Homo sapiens: one gene and its partners. The protein of the gene in region 3 purifies or fractionates together with the protein of the main gene of each other region. This does not show direct contact. Each region holds a gene or a part of one and is shown on either strand. Other genes may lie near its edges.

What was found.
Region 1: the proteins of MTF2 (region 3) and EZH2 purify together in Homo sapiens (affinity purification with mass spectrometry; 10 studies listed by BioGRID and IntAct, with this or other methods). This does not show direct contact.
Region 2: the proteins of MTF2 (region 3) and RBBP7 purify together in Homo sapiens (affinity purification with mass spectrometry; 6 studies listed by BioGRID and IntAct, with this or other methods). This does not show direct contact.

The regions. Positions count from the first base shown.
Region 1 is NC_000007.14:148,874,292-148,881,918, forward strand, and holds part of EZH2 (histone-lysine N-methyltransferase EZH2), read right to left. Parts: intron 1-7,627. UniProt on the Homo sapiens protein: Polycomb group (PcG) protein. Catalytic subunit of the PRC2/EED-EZH2 complex, which methylates 'Lys-9' (H3K9me) and 'Lys-27' (H3K27me) of histone H3, leading to transcriptional repression of the affected target gene.
Region 2 is NC_000023.11:16,846,363-16,853,989, forward strand, and holds part of RBBP7 (histone-binding protein RBBP7), read right to left. Parts: intron 7,481-7,627; coding exon 7,320-7,480; intron 6,514-7,319; coding exon 6,387-6,513; intron 6,267-6,386; coding exon 6,189-6,266; coding exon of another isoform or gene 6,054-6,188; intron 5,761-6,053; coding exon 5,684-5,760; intron 2,940-5,683; coding exon 2,882-2,939; intron 1-2,881. UniProt on the Homo sapiens protein: Core histone-binding subunit that may target chromatin remodeling factors, histone acetyltransferases and histone deacetylases to their histone substrates in a manner that is regulated by nucleosomal DNA.
Region 3 is NC_000001.11:93,074,445-93,082,759, reverse strand, and holds the start of MTF2 (metal-response element-binding transcription factor 2), read right to left. Parts: upstream 3,478-8,315; 5' UTR 3,234-3,477; coding exon 3,229-3,233; intron 1-3,228. UniProt on the Homo sapiens protein: Polycomb group (PcG) protein that specifically binds histone H3 trimethylated at 'Lys-36' (H3K36me3) and recruits the PRC2 complex, thus enhancing PRC2 H3K27me3 methylation activity.

The DNA of each region.
Region 1 (7,627 bases), on a different chromosome or scaffold from region 3:
GTGGGAGGATTGTTTCAGCCCAGGAGGTGGAGGTTGCAGTAAGCCAAGATTGTGCCACTGAAATCCAGGCTGGGTGACAGAGCAAAACCCCGTCTCAAATAAAAAAGCAAAGAAAAAAAAAACACCTATCAGAGATAATACTAATTCAGAGAGTTTGGGCTGTTCTACAGACTACCTGGAATGCTACCTTCAGGAATTTCTTAACTTGAATCCACAGCCATGAGAAGACTGAGGTGGACAATGCCACGATCACCTACAGTGGTGGTAAACAACACCCAATGGAGGTCCAACAGCTTGCTTTATATATTTTTTTCTTTGTTAAACAGGAAAAGGAAAAGTTATGTATTACTTGAATATTGAAGAAAAACTAAAAATTTATTGTGGGGGCAATTCAGGTGTTGAGCAAAAGAACTGCTACTTTACAAAAATAAAATAGTGTATAGAAACCAAGTATATATAATCTGAAAAGCCATCCATTTCTATAATAAAAAAATTTACGGGAGGCTTAGGCAGGAGAACAGCGTGAACCCAGGAGGCAGAGCTTGCAGTGAGCCGAGATCGCGCCACCGCACTCCAGCCTGGGGGACAGAGCAAGACTCCGTCTCAAAAAAAAAAAAAAAAAATTTTACTTGATTGTCAAAGTAGGGAAACTAAGTTTGGCAATCATCATTTCTACATACCCCATTCTAAGATCAAGGTCACTTTTTACTTTTAATATTCTCATTTATCCTTTGAAGAAAAAATTTAAGGCTTAACTCACTAATAAATGAAAAGGTTTGAATTATGCAAAATGAAGAGAATTACTAAATACAATAATTTTCAAAACTAGTTTAATTAAAAAAAATTATCATCCATACACCTAACAGCATATGAATAATATCCTTTTAGTTTACAAGTTTCTGCAAATGCATAACATTTTGTTACACTAATTAAATGACTCGTGAATTAAGGACAATTTGTTTCACATAATTTATCTGATTATGCTTCCCATATTAAAGTTTTAACTTGATCTTTATAGTATTAAAAATACACAAAATCAAACAAAAATGAACAATAAAATATTTGCAACACAATCTGACAGATAATGTGACTATGTACCCAGAACATATAAAGACCTCTTGCCACTCAACCAGACAAACAATCCAATTTTTTAAAGGGACAAAAGGCTTGAACCAAAAAAAGTACACAAATGGCCAATAAGCATATGAAAAGATGTTCCAACATCATTGATCATCTGAGAAACACAAACCCACAATGAGATACTTAATACTCATTTGATGGCCAAAATTTAAAAGACTGGCAACACGAAGTGTCAATGAAAATGTGAAGAAACTGTAACTCCTGCACAGTTACAACTGTAACTTTCAATTTAAAATGGTACAACTATTTTGGAAAAGAGTTTAACGGTTTCTTACAAAGTAAAATCAATATTTACCACTAAAACATGTCCAGGAAAGACATACAAATGGTGATAGCAGCTTTATCAACAGCTGACAACAGTCCTATGTGTCCATCCATGGGTAAATGAATTTAAAAACTGTAGCACATGCCTACAATGGAATATTAATTCAGAGAGTTTACTACAAGTCAGGTGCCGCGGCTCATGCCTGTAATCCCAACACTTTGGGAGGCCAAGGCAGAATCATTTGAGCCCAGGAGTTGGAAACCATCCTGGGCGACACAGGAAAACCCCATCTCTACAAAAAAATATTAATAATAAATGTTAGCTGGGCATGGTGGTACATGCCTGTGGTCCTAGCTACTTGGGAGGCTGAGGTGAGAGGTTCGATTGAGCCCAGGAGGTCAAGGTTGCAGTGAGCTGAGATCTCGCCTAAAACTACAAAAATTAGCTGGGTGTGGTGGCAGACGCCTGTAATCCCAGCTACTCGGGAGACTGAGGCAGGAGAATTGCTTGAACCCAGGAGGCGGAGGTTGCAGTGAGCCGAGATCATGCCATTGCACTCCAGCCTGGGTGACAGAGCAAGACTCCATCTTGGAGGGAAAAAAAAAAAAGTTGAGAGAATGACTGTAAAAGAGGATGAAAGGACTCTGAGATGATGGCAACCATTATAGATCTTGATCCAGGCAGCGGTGCAGGTGCATACATTTGTCAAAACTCCTCAAATCATACCCTTCAAATGTGTGCTTTTTATTGTATGTAAATTATACTTCAATACAGTTGTTGTTTTAACTAAAAATTAATATAACTTGACAACACCTATTAAAACTAGAAATGTTCATAATCTTGAAAGAGCCAACTCTATAGAAAATTGTCACACAAATGTTCAAAGATACATAAGGATGTTCACTTCTTTTCAGGAGAGAAAACAATGTCAATCACAACAGATTGGTTTGCTGCGTAATGCACATTCATAAACTGGAATACTATGCACCCCCCTTACACCAAAGAGGTACAGCTGGATGGCTTAGAGCAAGGGGCAGCAAACTTTCTCTGTAAAGGGCCACATGGTAAGTATTTTAGGCTTGGCAGGCGGTATCTAGTCTCCCTTATATGTTCTTCAGGGAAGTGGGGTGGTATTGTTTTACAACTCTTTTAAAAGTGTTAACGTTTCCAGCTCACAGGCCTTACCAAAAATGATCCCTGGCTGGGAGATCAGGACTTTGAAGCTAACGTACCCAAATTAAAATCCTTCCTCTACCACTAACTAGTTGTTACTTAATCTCTCCATCTCTCGATATTATAGTATCTATATAAAATAATGACTTAGAAGAGTACCAAGCATATAGTGAGCCCTAAAGGAATATCAATTATTTTTTAATAAAACAGATCTTTGTATTGACCTTAAAAAAAAGCCATGTTAGAACCAAATAACTTGGTCCCATTTTTATAAAATGTATGTAAAAATACATATTCATATATGAATATATTTGAAAATTTGGGGAAGAATATACACCAAACCGTTAAAGGTAGCGAATGAGATAACAGGGATCAATACGCTTTCATTTTATAAATGTCTACATTGTTTCAGTAGTTTAAAGCGAACACATTTAATCAACAGACATTTCTAAATTGAAATAGATAAAACGTGTGGTACCATTTTTGTAACTTACCAGTCCTAAGCACGTAATTTTAACTTGAGAAGTGTTTGGTTCCATTAATGAGAAAGTACATCAACTCTAAAATAATATTGGCACAATAACTGAAAATCATTTATCAAACACTTTTTGCCAGGTACAGTTCTAAGGATTTCACATGTATCAATTCCTTTAATCCTCACAACCACCTTATCAGATGTTATCATTATCCTCACCAATTTACAGATAGGGATGCTAAGACATCAAGAGGATAACACCCCAGACACAAATTGGTAGCTCAGGGACTGGAACCCAAGAAACTGTCTCCAAAGACCACATCCTTAGAACTCTACTCTCCTCCCCTCTCAAATGCATACTATTACCACTCTGGCTGAGAAAGAAATCCTCAAAGTTAACCTTTAGTCTGTCTAGGGTTTCACACTGTACCTTCCATCAAACTACAATTACCTACTTTTAAATGTAACTTTCTGAATGATTCAAATAAACTCATTCTTCTCGGAGCTGACATATCTTTAATCACCCAGAAAGCCAGCAGATAACACAGAACAGATAATATGGAGTAGATAATATGTAGTGAAACAGAACTAAGTTTGGATCCCGAATGCAAATTCCCAGCTGAATAATCCTGGGCAAATTCTTAACTCCTCCCCTGTAGACAGTTTTCTTCAGTTTCCTCATCTGTAAAGGTTTTCGGAGTGTGTTATTAAATTTTGTATTCTGGTAAGATATATAGATATAGAGAGAGATATATATAGATACAGATACATATCGTGTAAAATTTACCATTTTAACCATTTTTAAGTGTACAATTCTGTGGCATTAAATATATTCAAAATATTGTTCAACCATCACTATTATCCATCTCCAGAATTTTTTCACCATTCCAAACAGAAACTCTGTATTCATTAAACTCCCCATTCACCTCTCCCCTCACAGCCCTGGTAACCTCTATTCTACTTTCTGTCTCCATAGAGTTGCCTCTTCTAACTACCTCATATAAATGAGATCATACAATTTTGTATTTTTGTACAAAAGGTTGTATCTGGCTTATTTCACTAAGCATAATATTCTCCAGCTCCATCCATGTATCAGAATTTCACTCCTTTTATGTCTGAATTATTTTGAAATCTTTTTACTTTTATTTTGAAATTTCACTCCTTTTACGTCTTTATTTCACTCCTTTTATGTTTTCATTGGTTTATATACCACATTTTGTTAATTCGCCTGTTGGCAGACACAAGGTGGTTCTTACAAATATTAAAAACAAAAGCTGGGTGCAGTGGGTCACACCTATAATCCCAGCACTTTGGGAGGCTGAGGTAGGTGGATCTCTTGAGTTCAGGAGTTCAAGACCAGCCTGGGCAACATGGCAAAACCCTGTCTCTACAAAAAATACAAAAATTAGCCAGGCGTGGTGGCATGCACTTGTAGTCCCAGCTACTTGGGAGGCTGAGATGGAAGGATCGCTTGAGCCCAGGAGGCAGAGGTTGCAGTGAACTGAGATCACGCATCTGCACTCCAGCCTGGGTGACAACAAGACCCTGTCTCCAAAAAAAAATTTTTAATTTAAAAATGTTTAAAAAGTATCCAGGCCAGGCGTGCGCAGTAGCTCACGCCTGTAATCCCAGCACTTTGGGAGGCCGAGGCAGGCGGATCATCTGAGGTCAGCAGTTCGAGACTAGCTTGGCCAACGTGGTGAAACCCCATCTCAACTAAAAATACAAAAATTAGCCAGGTGTGGTGGTGCGTTCCCGTAATCCCAGCTACTCGGGAGGCTGAGGTAGGAGAATCGCTTGAACCCAGGAGGCAGAGGTTGCAGTGAGCCGAGATCACGCCACTGCACTCCAGCCTGGGCAACAAGTGTGAGACTCCATATCAAAAAACAAAAACAAAAACAAAAAACAAAAACAAAAACAACACAGCAGGGTGTGGTGGCTCACACCTATAATCCCACCACTTTGGGAGGACGAGGCAGGTCAATCACTTGAGGTCAGGAGTTCCAGACCAGCCTGGCCAACACAGTGAAACCCAGTTTCTACTAAAATATAAAAATTATCGGAGGCTGGGCACAGTGACTGACGCCTGTAATCCTAGTACTTTGGGAGGCCAGGGCAGGTGGATCACCTGAGGTCGGGAGTTCGAGACCAGCCTGGCCAACATGGTGAAATCCCATCACTACTAAAAATACAAAAATTAGCCAGGCCTGGTGGTGCATGCCTGTAATCCCAACTACTTGAGAGGTGAGGCAGGAGAATCATTTGAACCCAGGAGGTGGAGGTTGCAGTGAGCCAAGATGGTGCCACTGCACTCCAGTCTAGGTGACAGAGTGACACTGCATCTCAAAAAAATAAATAATAAATAATAAATAAATAAATTAGCCGAGCGTGGTGGCGCACGCTTGTAGTCCCAGCTACTCAGGAGGCTGAGGCACAAGAATCACTTTCGAGACTCCGTCTCAAAAAAAAAAAGTATCTGGGTCAAACACAATGGCTCAGCCTGTCATCCCTGTACTTTAAGAGGCCAAGGCAGGAGGATTGCCTGGAGCCAGGAGTTTGAGATCAACGTGGGCAACAAAGCAGGATCCCATCTCTACAAAAAATTAAAAAATTAAATAAGTCACCACAATGGTGTGCACTGGTAATACCAGTTACTCAGGAGGCTGAGACAGGAGGATCCCTTGAGCCCAGGAGTTTAAGGATGCAGTGAGCTATGATCTTGTTCTGTCTTGCTATTGTTAATGGAAAACAAGACCAATTATTAAGAAACTGCTAACCACATAATCTAAACACAAATTTGTCATATTTTTATACCAAGTAGTGGAACAGTGGCAAGATATGGAATGGTGCAACTATCTTAGAAATTTACCAGCTGTAACTTTTGAGGTATCACTAAATTTGCTAATCTGTATTTAAATCATTTTAAAAGAATGATGAAAAGCATCCCAATAAATGATCCAATTACACTGTCGCTACATCCTTCAGTTTTAGCTCCAAAACCTACCTCAATTTACTCCAATAAAGAACTCATGAATTATAACAAAACAGCTTTTCAGTTAAAAGATCTACTACCCTCTCTCGCCCTTTCCCTTCCTTATATTTTTGCAAAGAGATCATCAATATCAACATTAAATCAAATTAAGCAAATACTATTACTAAATATCCAGATGATTCATCAAGTTCTCTCCAGTTGTCCGAGTGTAATAGTTGCATCTAAAGGATATCTAATGTTTAGTACTACAGATTATAACTAGGAAAAACTTGGAACTTGTTCACCTTGACAACTATTTTTCTTTGTAATCATTCCCTATTAAAGAGGGAGAAAAACACATTTCAAAGTTCCTCACATGAATACTAACATATCCTGTTCACTTTGCAAGTTCCTTTGTCAAATTATTTCCCTACATTTTTCATATTTCCTTAATTCATTCAACTATATTTAAAACCCCTATTCTCTAGCAAATACCAACGTAGGTACTAGGTATACAAAGAAAAAAATAAGACAGAGCCTCTACCAGGAGGCACTTTGACTGTAGGGAAGAGAGGGATGCATAAACAAGTGATTACAATACAATTGAGTCATGCTACAATAAAATATGATAAAACCCTGTGGGAACACAAGAGTGGGAATTCAGGGAAGACCTCCAGAAGGTAAAGTATGTATCATCTGACCATGAACCTTTCTCTGAATTTAATGAATTGCTGCTGTTCACTTATGCTCTCCCCCGAAGATTTCACCTACTCATATAGAATCTATCATGATTTACAGAAAATTTGTCATCTATACTGATATAAAGACTTCAAGGCTAATCCATAAATCATTGCTAATTAACCACAGAATACATTATATTGGAGGATTTGTCCTTGTTGGTTTTTAAAAAGCAGATCAACTTTCTCAATCACTGCTCATGTAAAGGGTAATACTGAAATAAATTCAGAATCCTTGAGCACACTACCTCAAAAGAAGGAAGGTATCCTGGGAAAATTCCAGTATGACTTGGAGAAATTTGCCTAAAATTTTTAAATGGCCAACATAAAGATATTCACTTAAATGTATTTGTGCAAGGCAAAGCTAGGTATCAAAGTATCAGAACTTTTTCTAACTACACTAGATCAACAAGTGTGTTTTAAGTCACTGCTACTTAAACTGACTAAATACATTCTCAATTGTACCAGAAAATAATTTAATATGAATTTTTAAACCAATTCCCCAAAGAGATGTTTTTCAAAATATCTCATGGCAAGTACAAAGAATAGTAATTATCAAATACAGAGAACACTCAAGGGCAAAGTTAGAAATTTTTATCCTAGGCTGGGCGTGGTGGCTCACGTCTGGATCAGCATTTTGGGAGGCGGAGGCGGGTACATCACTTCAGGTCAGGAGTTCGAGACCAGCCTGGCCAACATGGTGAAACCCTGTCTCTGCTAAAAATACAAAAATTAGCCGGGTGTCGTGGTGCGTGCCTGTAGTTCCAGCTACTCGGGAGGCTGAGGCAGGGGAATTCCTTAAACCCGGGAGGCAGAGATTGTAGTGAGCCCAGATCCAGCCACTGCACTCCAGCCTGGACGACAGA
Region 2 (7,627 bases), on a different chromosome or scaffold from region 3:
TCAATCCGTTATATGCCATGTAACATACTCTTCTATTATACAAGGGGCCTGAGGAGTCTTCTGGTTCTTCCCCTCTCCACTTTACTGAGAGAGGCATACTTCTTGCCCATCTTTCCAACGTACACAGACAGCACCAGGGTGAAAGAAAATCCCTGGCTCCAAAAGCATAGCTCCAGATAGTCCCTCATAAGCTATGCCTAAGGTGAGAGCTTTGCTAAACAATTCTGAAGAGAGCAGTTGTTCCCCGCAAGAGACAACCTCGTCGGAATGCACTATGCCTTATTTTTTTATCTTAGAATTAAGATTTAAACGAAACACTTCTTCACAAGGACAGTACTAAATACACTGTTTGGAACTGGGACATCACACTTTCTGACAAAGTCTGATTTGACTCTAGTTTGACAATGAGGTCTCTGCCTGCCAACTAGGTATTATGCAATGTATCTATTTTACCGAATAATCTTATCGGGTTAAAAATATGAGGTGGGGCTGGGTAAAACTCACGCCTGTAATCCCAGCACTTTGGGAGGCCAAAGCAGGCGGATGGCTCGAGCTCAGGAGTTCAAGACCAGCCTGGGCAACATGACAAAACCCCGTCTCTACAAAAAATACGAAAATTAGCCGGGCGTGGTGGGGTGTGCCCATAGTCCCAGCTACTCAGGAGGCTGAGATGGGAAGACAGCTTGAACCTGGGAGGTGGAGGTTGCAGTGAACTAAGACTGCGCCACTGCACTCCAGCCTGGGTGACAGAACCAGACCTTGACTTAAAAAAAAAAGAGGTAAATAGCTTTTTAAAGTACTCTTAAGGGGTACACAAGTGAATATACTGGCCGGGTGTGGTGGCTCACGCCTGTAATCCCACCACTTTGGGAGGCTGAGGCGGGCGGATCACGAGGTCAAGAGATCAAGACCATCCTGGCCAACATGGTGAAACCCTGTCTCTACTAAAAATACAAAAATTAGCTGGACATGGTGTTGCGCACCTGTAGTCCCAGCTACTCGGGAGGCTGAGGCAGGAGAATCACTTGAACCCGGGAGGCAGAGGTTGCAGTGAGCTGAGATTGCACCACTGCACTCCAGCCTGGGCGACAGAGAGAGTACTCTTAAGGGGTACACAGGTGAATATATTTTAAGATCACTGGGGCTTAGAAAACATACAGGAGTTATCAAAGCATACTGGTGGAATAGTTTACTACTTTGTTTTTGGGACAGGGTCTCACTCCCATTGCCCAGGCTGGAGTGCAGTGGTGTGATCATGGCTCACTGCAGCCTCAACTTCCCGGGCTCAGGTGATTCTCCTACCTCAGTCTCCCAAGTAGCTGGGACTACAGGCACGCGCCACCACACCTGGCTAATTTATGTATTTTTTTTTTTTTTTGGTAGAGACAGGACAGGGTTTTGCCATGTTTCCCAGCCTGGTCTTGAACTTGTGGGCTCACGTGATCCACCTGCCTTGGCCTCCCAAAGTGCTGGGATTCCAGGCAGGAGCCACCATGCCCAGGCCCAGTTTACTACTCTCAAATGTCCCTTGATTTCAAGCTCTCTTGTAAAAAGCAAAATCCTAGTGTATTTTCTCAAGGACCTTGGAATTGTTGCAGAGGCATAATATACAAAGTAATACGCTTTCCTTTCTCCCTAAAAAAAATAGCTGGAGACCTTGAAAACATTGTACTATGTGAAAGAATCAGTCCCAAAAGACAAAAGTCATATTTATATGAAATATCTAGAATAGCCCAATCTTATAGTGCCAGAAAGTAGCACAGTAGTTGCCAAGGGCTGGAGGAAGAAGAGAATTGGGAGGTGATAGCTATAGTTTCTTTTGGAGGGGATGAATAATGTTCTAGAATTGATTTGTGGTGATAGTTTTACAAGTCTATGAATATACTAAAAACCACTGACTTCAAGAACAAAAAAAGAAAAAAAACCCCCAAAACCCAAGAACACTCCCTCCCCACTGAACTGTACACTTTAAAGAAGTGAACTGTGTGGTATGTAAATTATATCTCAGTAAAGCCGTCATCAAAATAAAAGGGTCTGGAGCATTCTTACAAGGTGGGCTTAGTGAACATCTTCTGTGTGCAGGGCTTGCTCTCAAGGACCTTCTTTACCTTTGAAAACTTGTGGACATTCAATATACTCCATAGGTTCACAGAAAAAATGAATAAATAAAACTCATGGACAAAGTACAAGTGTGCCAAAAATGAGTACTGGCATTAGAACTAAAATCGTAAATGACAGAGTGATGAGTGACTATCGGCCAAATAATGGGAGGAGACAAATGTTGGATTCAGAGCAAGGACAGGGAACCATTGCTAAATCCGGCAATGCTTCATAGAAAAATGACGAAGTGAGCACTGAAGGACTCAGACGGGAAGAATGAGGATGGGCAGATACCACCACATAAGCTTTCAAAGGGCCAAGGAGATGCGTGATGCTTCAATCAGGCATGGGAGGGAGATAGTGGGCTCTGCTAACATCAAGATTGAGAAAGCACTCCTTTTCTGGGCAGGAAACTTAAAAAGCATTTAAAATTTTTTCTATACTGTTAGGAAATGTTAAGTACTGCCAACTGAATAGCAATTATACTCACTCCCCATCCCCAAACCATCACAAATACCAGAGTTGAAATCAGTGAGAAATTACTATATACTATTTTCCAGGACCTCAAACCATTCTCAGTGAAACATTCATAAAAACCTACTGGGCTCCATTTACTATTTTTGATAAATGTCAAAGCCCAGTTGCAATAACCTTCAGGGCCTCCATTTTGAAACCATCTGCAAGAGCTAGAATTCGAAGTTCTGACCCATTCTCGAAATAAAGAGATCAATGACAATCCAATCTGCATATGACATTTCATCTTCTATAAGCCAATGCGTACCAGGAGTTCTGGAGGCCCATCTTCTGCATCTTCTGCTGATTGTTCTTCCCCAATTTTACTGTAAGAATAAAGAATATAACGCTTTCATCAGTGAAATTCTTGTAGCACGAACATCTGCTAAACCAGTATCAGCCCAGAAAGTAATCTTAAAACATAAACACACTCACAAAAACAACTTATTTCTATACTACAATCAATTAGGTTTTTTTTTTCCTTAGAGACATGGCCTCGCTATGTTTCCCAGGCTGCAGTCAGTAGCTATTCATTCACAGGCACGATCACTGTGCACTACAGCCTTGAACTCCTGGGCTCAAAAGCGATCCTCTCGCCTCAGCCTCACCACATCTGGCTACTGTTTATATTTGGTGTAAGGACGGGATGTTTACTTTCTGGAAATAAGTTAGAGTTGTTCATAATTGAAGTTGCAGAATGAGGAATTATTGTCAATAATAAACATTAACTCAAAATCCCTTCATTAACTGTTTATTGCCTTAGAATTAAAAGGTGAAATGTATAGTTAAAAAAATCTACACATAAACTGATGTGCAATCCCTATACTTCACTCAAAGCCTGTTGCATCCCAGGAGTAAAATATAATTACAAATCAGTACTATAGATCTGTCTAAAGATATGGCAATAAAACTTTGAGAAATGTGTAAGCCAAGGAAATGTTTTTATGGTTTTTCTCTTAAAAACTTCAATTTGTAGAATTTGCCAGTGCTCAACAGTGAAATCACTCTTTATGTATCAATATCAGCCCTGTCCTTATACCTAGCCCAAAGACTTTAGTAGTAACAACTACTAAAAAACAAAACCCAGCCCTCCAAGTGAGACATTTTTTTCCTTCCCACAAAACTAACCAAACAATCTCAAACCTGTGGGATTGCTAGACAATACTTATCTTCCACCTGTCAGTATAGTTGCTAAAACTCACCATTTTAATCCCAAATTTTATCTAATGTAATTTTACAATTTTTTGTAGAGACAGGGTCTATGTTGCCCAGGTTGGTCTCGAACTCCTGGGTTCAAGCGATCCTCCTGCTTCAGCCTCACAAAGTACTGGGATTATAGACATGAGCCGCCATGCCTGGCCCCCTATCTAATGTAATTTTAATATTAAACAAGCTAAGAAATAATTCTAAGAAGAAATTACACACAATGCTCACAAATTATTGGCACCTTCAGGGGCAATTCAGTTGCCAGGGCATCAGACTTCCAAACCTTGCTGTACGCTTCATACAACCTCTTTATAGTTTTGATTTAGGTTTTATTTTACTACTAAAATTGTTTTTAAATCAAATACAATGCCCCCAACTGTCTGCTTTAAAGGTTTTCTACATCTTCAAGTATTTATCACGGCAAGAGTTTGCTCCATCAGAACCCTGAACATTAGCTATTTTAAGTTTTACATACAAGCATTTTATTCTCCAGCGTCTCTTCTATATACTGAGGATTACTGCCTCTATAATTAAGGCAGCCTTGGTTTTAATATATAGGTTGAGCATCCCAAATCCAAAATGTTCCAAAATCCAAAACTTTAAGCACCACGTGACACTCAGAATTTGGACTTTCACACCGAGTGCAATGGCTCATGCCTGTAATCCCAGCACTTTGGGAGGCCAAGGCGGGAGAATCACGTGGGGTCAGGAGTCTGAGACCAGCCTGGCCAATATGGCAAAGCTCTGCCTTTATTTATTTATTTTTTTAGTAAAAAATACAAAACCGGGCATGGTGGCTGTGGCAGTGCTTGTAGACCTGTAGACCCACCTCCTCGGGAAGCTGAGGCATGAGAACTGCTTGAACCTGGGAGGCAGAGGTTACAGTGAGCCAAGATTGCGCCACTGCACTCCAGCCTGCGTGACAGAGCAAGATTCAGTCTCCAAAAAAAAAAAAAGAAAAGAAAAGAAAAGAAAAAGAAGAAGAATTTGGACTTTCAGTTCAGATTTGAGATGCTCAACCAATAAAGTATAATGCAAATATTCCAAAATCCTAAAAATTCCAAAACCCCAAACACTTCTTATTCCAAGTATTTTGGATAAGGGATATTCAACCTGTACTAAATTCAGTCCACTTCAAAGCAATATATTTAATACAAGCAGGAAATAAGTTATTTTTTGGTAATTTTATGATTTAAACTTAAGATGACATCTTACGGAGGAGTATGTAACTGAGCAACTTTATTAAGTTCTAAAGGCTCAGATGAACAAGTAAAGGAGTCTAAAATTCTTAGAACAGCAAGTCTGAACTAAAGGAACTTTAAAAATTGGCAGAAACTCTTTATACAATGAGGCCCCAGAGAACATAAGCTCTCTGACAGCTTGGGCTGTCCTTGTCCCCTTCACAAAGGTCTCCCCAGCAGTTACACAACCCACAGCAGGAGTGCACATCTGCAGAATGAATCACTGAAAGCAAAGTAAATGGTACAAAAACCCAGAAAAAACAGTCCTGCCTACACGTACTGAGATCCAATGAGACATAAAACAGCTAACATCTTGATTTCTCTATATCAAGTGTGTTTTAAATACAGTCATTTGAATGCAAAAACAAAAACAGACACATACACCTTCATGCCTGAATATTAAGAGACAAAACTCACACTAGAGAAATTTATTTTATGGTCCATTTGCTGCTTCACTTCTATTTTACAGAACAAAGGCTCTTTAGGAAGATGCTTAGAAGTTTCTTTAATATTAGGTTTCTTGAAGGGGGGATTACCAAATTGCTTTTCTAGTTTATGAATGACTATGTAACTTGCCAGATAGGCACATTTATGCAGTATCTTGTCACAGGACTGTAAGTTACCTTAAATCCCACACATTCAGGCGGCGGTCAGTACCACTTGAAGCCAGAATAGTTTCATTATGTGGAGACCAGTGGACCTAGTAATAGATAATTTTGAAAATGTATTTAAAGAATCATCCGCTGCTAGGTTTGTGGCTGTTGTTCTAATCTGATATTTTCCCATCTTGCACTCTATTATCTTATCCTTGGCCTGATGGCCTCACTCTCTTGTCCCCGACTTTCAAGTGCTCTGCAAGGGCTCAGCTCCATCCTGTCCTCAGGAAGGCTGCACTCCCCAGCACTGAGGAACTCAGCCTGGGATCTCAATAAATTTATTCGACCCCATAACCATCCCAGAAGCTTTTTAATTCTTCAACAAGGTGTACCTTACCCTATGAGCATCTCCATGTAACACCACGTACAAGACATTTTTTTCAATAGTGGACCCACGAGTCTGGTATAGCTTAACTGATGAATCCCTGGATTTCATTTCCTGACATACAGACACCAGAAAACTGTCACATACCTGGAAAATTTCATCTTTATGAGATTCGAAGGTATGGAGTTTTAATTTTAAGTTACGCAGATCCCATAAAGCTACGGTCTAAAGAAAAATAACAAGTGAAAATGATTTCTATGCTTTACCTAAGAATTTTCAAATATCTGATTAAGGCACAAGAGAACTGGGTTTTATAAACACCAAATAATGCAAAAACTTCGAAACCTTATCCGCAGAGCCGGTGGCTAGAATAAATTCGCTGTAGGGATTGAATGAGAGGCAGTTGACTTCGGCAGTGTGCGCATCCACCAAGTGACTCGGCTTGGAGGTGGTATTGGACCTGGTGTCCCATCTAAAACACAAAGGTAAAGGCACACGGCACCCAGGGATGACACACTCACATTCGGCCTCACATCACTGTCACTGCACTCCACAACTAGCTCCACTATGTGCTCCCCTTCATGAAGAAACCAACCACACAGCTGGTGATTCAGACCTCGACCACTAAATGATACATTCGAAACCTACAGAGAACAAGCTAGGGCTGTTAGTCCTGTTTTTTAAATTAGATTCCTATTTTAATTACCAACTATTTCAAGTGTACACAAAATACAGACTATGTAGAGAATAATGTCACAATCTGATACCTAAAACTAGTTTTGACAAATGCCCAGTATTTTGTCACATTTGCCTCAGGTATTTCTTTATAAGATTATAAGTGAATGAAGCCCTGTGGCCACACCTTGATGAAATCATTTTCCTCCTCGACCTCCAACTGGCATCACTCTGGATCTCAATTTTGATATTTACCACCACACCAAGTATGTTCCTTCACATGTCCATACCTAGTTTTCTTTTTTTCTAAATAATAAGTGATCCTCCCACTTCAGCCTCCTGAGTAGCTAGGACTACAGGTGCACACCACCATACCCAACTAATTTTTTGTTTTTAAATTTTGTGTAGAGTCTCACACTCCTGGTCTCAAGCAATCCTCCTGCCTCAGCTTCCCAAGGTATTGAGATTACAGGAGTAAGCTACCTAAAGCTGTTTTTTAAAGCCATAACTTAAAAAAAAAAAATCAAACTACAGCCTGCAGCAATCACTGATGGTCATTCAGGTCACCCATTTAACAAGATCCCACTGAATTTTCCACCTTACATCATAAGTTTCTGATCATCAGCAACAGATCCAAACAATGACTCGTGCAGCAGGTGCCAGGCCACATCCTCTACAACAGCTGAGTGGCCAGTAAAGATGGCTTTAGCATCCACAATTTTGCCTTCTTTTGGTCCTGCGTTTATATCCCACAGACAAACAGTCTAAGAGAGAAGGAGAGAAAAAAAAAAGAACAAGGGCTATAAGAGACTGATTTTTTTTTTTTTCCCTCGAGACAGTGTCTCAGTCTGTCACCCAGGCTGGTGCGATCTCGGCTCACTGCAGCCTCCGCCTCCAGGGCTCAAGCGATT
Region 3 (8,315 bases):
AAAAAAATCACTGAACTGTACACCTTCAAAGAATGCATGTGAATTATGTACATATAACTATAGTATATAAATTATATCTCAATAAAACTTATTAACAACTGTACAGTTAAGATTTGTGCATTTCAATATATGTAAACTTCACCTAAAAATAAACCTTTAAAAAATAATAAAAACAATGGGCTGGGCACAGTGGCTCAATCCCAACACTTTAGGAGGCCACAGCAGGAGGACTGCTTGAGGCCAAAAGTTCATGACCAGCCTGGGCAACACAGTAAGATCCCGTCTCCACAAAAAAAATTAAAAATTTAAAAATTAGCCAGGTGTGGTGGTGTGCACCTGTAGTCCTAACTACTCGGCAGGCTAAGGCAGGAGGATCACTTCCGCCCAAGAGTCTGAGGCAGCAGCAAGTTATGATAGCACCACTTCACTCCAGCCTGGGTGACAGAGCAAGACCTTGTCTCTTTTTACAGAAAAAAAAAAAAAAAAGAATGGTTACATAAAAGCTCACTATTCTATTCTGCTCACTTTGTATTATGTTTGAAATATTCCTTAAGTTTTTTCTACCAAAGTGTAAAAACAAAGTAATTTTTTTAAACAACAAAACGTTCCTAATATCCATTTTTTGTTGTTTTTTGACACAGAAGCAGAATCTTATATTTTAAAAAGACTAGAGAGGTCACTATCTTTCATTATTCTATTGCAATGTTATATGAAAACAGAAATATGACAGAAGACATGGTATGTGGTAAAAATGAATACTTCATCTTAAATGTACAAAAAGAATCTGAACTTCCTCAGTTCTCAGGCATTTCCTCATCCTTGGATTCCTGTGGTTTCCATGGTTAATGAATGTAACAATTCCTCAATACATGGATGCAATAACCCCTACTACTGTGCTGTCCAATACAGTAGCACTGCTACATATGGCCATTTAAATTTTAGTTTTAATGAATTAAATTATAAATTCACTTCTTAGTCTCACTAGTTACATTTCTAGAGTTCAATACCCACATGCAGCTAGTGGCTACTGTACTGGATACAGCAGATATAGAACACTGCCATCACTGGAGAAATTTCTACTAGATAGCACTACTCTAACATATAAGAAATATCCACAGGGAAACTTTTACATTCCAATTTAGGATGGTTATACTGGATTTCACAGCAATAAACAAATTTTCCTGAAGAACAGGGAAAACAAAGTACAAAAATATTAACCATCAAAGATCGTTCATGGAAGTGTCGACTAACTAAAACAGCAGTTAAGTTTTACTTTCAGAACCATCAAGCTACAGATGTTGGTCATGGCAACTCCTCAGAGGCAAATTTCTCTGTTAAAATATAGATTAACAATATACTGTCAGTTTCCTCAAGTCAGATGTAAAGATTATGCTGAAAAATGATTAAAGCAAATTATCCTTCAAAGATCCCACAAAAAGGAATATTTATAATCCATGAAATCAAAGAGTTAATGACCCACAGTAAAATACACAGAATGTCTTTCCTAACAGAGCTTTGAGGCAACGGGGATGATTTAAAGAACTATTAAATATAATTGTGTCATCTAGAAAAAAGGCTTAACAAGATGATTTCTGTACAACTAGTTCTAAAACTGTGTATGCATTTCATCCTGATAGTTACACATTTCCGTTAATACCCACTAACATTATAAATGTAGTATCAGGAAGCAGGTGTGTTCTTAATTCAAATATTTAGAACATTTTTAGCACTTTAAAAAACTGCAGGTGAACTAATTTTAAAATGTGAATTCAAATACATTTTTATATTTAGGAATCTGAAAAAACAAGTCATTTTGTATTCCCTCTCAAGTTATAACTAAACTATAGGGCACTTAAAGCCATCAGTCAAAACAACTCCCTTTAAAGCATTTTCAAATCTTAAAAAGGTTATTGTGAATTTAATTACATTTTATCCACATTAACTACTTCTACATACAACTATCTTTGAAATTTACTGACAAAAAAAAAAAAAAAAGGAATTCCCAAGAGAGAATGAAACCATGGAAATTGAAACCAGCTTGTAGGCTAGGTATACAGGAGGGTCACATGGAATCCATCTGAAGGAGAAAGTAACTACTATTACTACCGGAGGTTCTGAAGTCAAATTAAATCAGGTACTATTTACATATTTCTAGCTCTGTACTGACCTCACATGGTGCCTTCCTATGTATTACACACAGGCCTAGCTAGGTTTTCACATTTAAGTTAGTGTTACATGGTTTCTATCTTTAACCAAAGTTAAATGTTTTAAAGAATAGAGTAACATTCCATAAGCCTTTTCCCATTGTTCACAAACCCTTGCTGTTAGTCAGATTACCCCGATAAATCCATCTGTTCCCTCTAATTGCTTCCAAAGAAAAATTCTAGCAACCAAGGACACCAGATTGTAAAACACAGAGTTAGAGTTCTGGCACTACCGAAATATGTTAAGAAATCTTGGCAAATTGGTTAAAATTCCTTGAGCCGTAATTACCTCAGTTGTAAAAATGAATACAATACAAATCTACATCCTAGACGTAGATTATATGAGTTAGGTTTAATTAAACACAAGAAAAGCCTCATATTTTTGGTGAGCTCCAAATATAAGCTACCTAGCTTTCCCCCATCTCACTTTCCCTCCCACCGCTTCCCTTTAAGCTTTCAGGTTGTGCTTCCAACCTCCACTTCAGTGTGTTCCCCTTATCCTTACCAGCACTTACACTCGACCCCCTTTACTCCAATTCCATACAATTCCACCCTCCGATTCCAAGCTGCTACTTCCCTTTGCGCACTGCTAAGGTCCCAGGCAGCCCTCCACTCTGCTCCCCACATTTCCCTCAGCCCCCATTTCCCAACGGCTCCTCCTCTCGGCTCCCCACCCCCTCGTCACCAGGTTCATCCTGCCCCTCCAACCGTCTCCCGCCCCCAGGTTCCTTCCTGCCCTCCAAACACAGCTTCCCCGTCTCAACGTTTCATCTTGTTCCTCCAACAGACTCCCCCAACGACCTCCTCGCTCCTTTAGTCCCTATTTTCTCCCAACACTCAACTGACTACTCCTCTTCATCCATTCTTTTCAATATACACATAAATGCAAAGGCACCCACATACAGGAGCCCCCACCCCCACCTTGGTCCTCCATCTTTCCCTTTTATACTTGCTTCCTTTCTTCCTCCTTCCCCCAACCCCCATCTCCTCCGGAAGAGTCGGTTCCCAGGCCAAGGTCTCTCACCTCATTCGGTCACTTCAGTGGTGCCAACCGCTTCATACAGGAAAAAACAACCAATCCGTCCCCGTGGGCGCTTCCCCTGCGAGTCCGAGCACTTACTGGGCACCCGCCCCACCGGGTACCCGGCACATATGCACGCACAAACCGAGGTCCTTGGAGACAAGGGTTGGGGGTAGAATGAGCGTTCTTACACCGGCCTCAAACACAGCCCACTTCAATACAGCCCCTCGCCATTTTGGTTTCCCGCGGACTGCCGGTGCATTCTGGGAGCGCGGAGCGACTCCGGTGCCGAATGGCAGCTCTCCAAAGCCGCGGGGGGGCAGGGACTGCGCGGCGAGCGCGGAGGAACACCGCGCCCTGCGTCCCCGACTGGGGCTGAACAAAGAAGGACTCTTTAACGTTGCAGTGAGGCTCAGTCCTTCCGCCGCCGGGGCTAACACAATAGTGAAAGCTGCGCTCCTGATCGTCGGCAGGCTGGCACTGTTATACAGGAAAAGGGTCGTGTGCGACCTTCGGTGTGCGTGGTCGTAACGGTGCTCTGTGCATCTTGCTGGGCCGATTTCTTTTCCCTGGAGAAAACCTTAACTGAAGCACGTTTCCTCTACTTTCATCCTAAGGCCTGCTGTTAGAATTTCCTTCAGAGGGGAGAAGACCCAGGATGTCGAGATTAAATTTTATTCAGCGATTCACTGTCCAGTCCCAAACTCCTTATCAGGAGCTGCTTTTATGAAAGACTTTCAGACGATTTTTTTCCTAACGATGAAAGGTTGTTTTCTGTTTACCCGCTTTGCAGTCCTTCCTAGTTGTAATGAAATCTGAGAATAGTCCCCTGCAAAATGGTTTAAGAAAACAGAATTGTTTATTAGTGCAGACCCTTAGCCTGCCCAGATTCTGCTGCCTACAGGGGTCCCAACTGACAAGCTGTGAGATTGTATGCTTGTCTCTTTAACTTACACCTAGATACAACCCAGCTCCTCTTAGTAGCCACGTGTGGAATCTTTATTTATAATTTCGTCAAAATATTTTTAAAGCCATTTTATATTTTTGTCCCATATTATGCCACAGGGATAGTGAACACCATATTTTTTCTGTCTCTGAAAAAGTACCTTTTGTGGTCTAAGCTCATTTGGCTCATACTTCAAAAGGGGTTCCCTCAGCCTGTGATCTCAGAATTTGGCAAATAAGCATATTCGTTTTATCCAATACCATTCAATACTTTAAATATTGTGGTCATACCCTTCCACTCCTCTGCTTCTCCTGAATAATAGTCCTAATCTTTTAAGTCTGTCTTCTTACTGTACCCTCACTGTATCTACTTACCTACTACCTTTCAGGTTTCACTTTATTTCAATTCTCATCATCGTCTCTCATAAATTCGTCTTAAGTGACCTTCATACGTTGGCTGAGGAAAATTTTGACTTAAAAAAAGCAGATGCAGCCGGGCGCGGTGGCTCACACCTGTAATTCCAGCACTTTGGGAGGCCGAGACAGGCAGATCACCTGAGGTCGGGAATTCGAGACCAACCTGATCAACTTGGAGAAACCCCGTCTCTACTAAAAATACAAAAATTAGCCAGGTGTGGTGGCACATGCCTGTAATCCCAGCTACTCGGGAGGCTGAGACAGGAGAATCGCTTGAACCCAGGAGGCAGAGGTTGTGGTGAGCCAAGATCGTGCCATTGCACTCCAGCCTAGGCAACAAGAGCAAAAACTCCATCTCAAAAAAAAAAAAAAAAAAGTAGATGCATTCCCATTCAGGAACGTGGCATTAAGGTAAATAAATAAATAAAATATTAAAAAGTAGATGCAGTACAAAAATTAATAAAGATATTGCACAAACAGATATATTTGCTGTGCAGCTAAGCCTAATCAGAGAACATCTGTTTTGGAGAACGTTTGGTCTAAGTTTTCCTCAACATTTCTGTAAAGTGGTCACCAAGCCTCAACTTCAAAATCTTCAGTGATTCAATACTTCAGACGCATTCATTTCCACCTCAGAAACTCTAATAATTTAGGCTCTTTGGCTACACAAAAGTATTCTAATCCCTTATACATTAGAGAAGTAAATTATGCCTCTATCAAAAAAAAGTGTTATTTTTCTGTGCAAACGTGTGAGTACAAAGGTGTAAGCAAACCAAGTGTTCAGAGATTTAAGGACACTCAGGGAGTCACAGTCAAGTATAAAGAATACCTGTCAGCCAGCCACCAGCAACTCACTCCTGTAATCCCAGTACTTTGAAAGGCCAAGGTAGAAGGATCACTTGAGCTGGGGAGTTCCAGACCAGTATGCAGTCTGAGCCACATAGTGAGACCCTGTCTCTACAAAAAATTTAAAAATTAGCTGGGCCCCTGCCTGTAGTCCCAGCTATTCAGGAGGCTGAGGTGGTAGGCTTACTTGAGCCACAGTGAGACTGCCTCAAAAAAAAAAAAAAAAAAAAAAAAAACCTGCTGTAGTTGTGGTTCCTCGGAAATATAGAGTGAACTCTGATCAGAGTAAACTGTACCCTTTATTGTTGTATGTATTTCTGTGATCATCCTTAGGGTGGTTCATAAGTATTCTGGTTCCCCTCTCTTCCAGACACATAGTAAAATTGCACTCTGGCCGGGCGCGGTGGCCACGCCTGTAATCCCAGCACTTTGGGAGGCTGAGGGGGGCAGATCACTTTAGGCCAGGAATTCCAGACTAGCGTGGCCAACATGGCAAAACTCTGTCTCTACTAAAAATACAAAAATTAGCCGGGCGTGGTGGTGCATGCCTGTAATCCCAGCTATTTGGGAGGCTGAGGCAGAGAATCACTTGAACCCAGGAGGCCGAGATTGCAGTGAGCCAAGATTGCACCGCTGCACTCCAGCCTAGGCGACAGAGGGAGACTCTGTCTCGAAGAAAAAAGAAAAAAAAATTTGCACTTTCTTGCACCCCTGAAGTTAATTGCTTTGACCAATAAAATGGGTGACATGTATCACTTCTCAGGAGAATCTTTAAGAAGCAGAGACACATCTCCCTCCCCCATGCTATGGTAATCATGGAAGCTTGGGTTGAGATAGAATGTCTGTCGCTTTCAGTTCCTAAATGTCTACAATAAGCAGTGACTAGAATTGTGCAATCATCACCACAATCCACGTTTAAAACATTTCCATCACCCCCAAAAAATTCATTATGCGCATTTGCAGTCAACCCTCCTTCCAAGCCCTAGGCAATCTGCTATCTGCTTTCTGACAATTTCATATAAATGGTTTCATACAATAAGTAGTCTTTTGCATCTGGGTTCTTTCACTCAGAATATTTTTTAGGTTCATCTACGTTGTACCAGTCAGTAGTTATTTCTTTTTATTGCCAAATAGACTCCATTTGAATGAATGTACTACATTTTGTTTATCCATTCGCCAGTTGAAGGACATTTATGTTGTTTTCAATCTGGGGCTATTATAAATAAGACTGCTATGAACATTTGTGTACAAATCTTTGTATGGACATTCGTTTTTTATTTTTCTTGAGTAGATCCCTAGAAGTGGAATTACAGAGTTGTATGATAAGTTTATGTTTAACATTTTAAGATACTGCCAAACTGTTTTCCAAAGTGTAAGCAATATGTAAGCCTTCCAGTTTCCCAATATCCTCACTGATACTTGTCTATCTTTCTGATTTCACTCATAACAGTAGGGATTGCTAGGCATGGTGGCTCACACCTGTAATCCTAGCACTTTGGGAGGCCAAGGCTGGAGGATTGCTTGAGCCCAGAAGTTTGAGACCAGCCAGGGCAATACAGTGAAACCTTGTCTCTAAAAAAATAATAATTTTTTTTTTTTTTAGATGGAGTCTCTCTCTGTCACCCAGGCTGGAGTGCAGTGGCACAATCTTGGCTTACTGCAACCTCTGCCTCCTGAGTTCAAGCGATTCTCCTGCCTCAGCCTCCTGAATAGCTGGGATTACAGGCACGTGCCACCACGCCCGGCTAATTTTTGTATTTTTAGTAGAGACTGGGTTTCACCATGTTGGTCAGGCTGGTCTCAAATTCCTGACCTTGTGATCTGCCTGCCTCGGCCTCCCAAAGTGCTGGGATTACAGGCATGAGCCACTGCACCTGGCCAAAAAAAAAAAAAAAATTATTATAATAATTTAAAACAGTGGGAGTGAAGTGGTTCATTGTGGTTTCCCTAATGGCTAGTGCTATTGAGCATCTTTGGTTTGTTAGCCATTCTTATATCTTCTTTAGTGAAGTGCCTACTCAAATATTTTATGTATTTTTTAACTGGACAATCTTCTTATATCAACTTGTAAGAGTTCTTTATATATTCTAGATTTAGGTTCTTTAACAGAAGCATGATTTGCAAATATTGTCTTCCTGTCTATGACTTTATGACTTGTCTTTTCATTTTTCATAATGATGTCTTTTCTTTTTCCCCCAGAAACAAGGTCTCACTCTGTTGCCCAGCCTGGAGTGTAGTGGCACTGATCATAGCCCACCATAACCTCAAACTCCTAGGCTCAAGCAATCCTCCCATATTAGCTTCTCAAGTAGCTGAGACTACAGGTGCACACCACCACTCCCAGCTAATTTTGTTTTAATTCTTTTAGAGATGGGATCTCTATATGTAGCCCAGGCTGGCCTGGAACTCTTGGCCTCAAGCCATCCTCCCACCTCAGCCTCTCAAGTAACTGGGATTACAGGTGCAAGCCACCCTTGCCAGGGCTTAATGTATTTTGAAGGGAAAAAAATTTATTTTAAGTTCAATGAAATCCTATTTATCTTTTTTTAAATACCATATGCTTTTGGTGTTATAACTAAGAATTATTTTACCAAAGTCTATTTTCTATTATGTTTTCTTCAGAAGTTTATAGGTTTAGCTCTTATATGTAAGTCTATGATCCATTTCGAGTTATTTTTTGTGCACAGTGTGAGAGGTATAGGTCTGTATTAATCTTCTTGTGGCTGGGTGTGGTGGCTTCTGCCTGTAATCCCAACACTTTGAGAGGCTGAGGTGGGAGGATTGCTTGAGCCCAGGAGTTTGAGACCACCCTGGGCAACATGGCAAAACCCTGTCGCTACAAAAAATACAAAAAAAAAAAATTAACTGGGCATGGTGGTGTG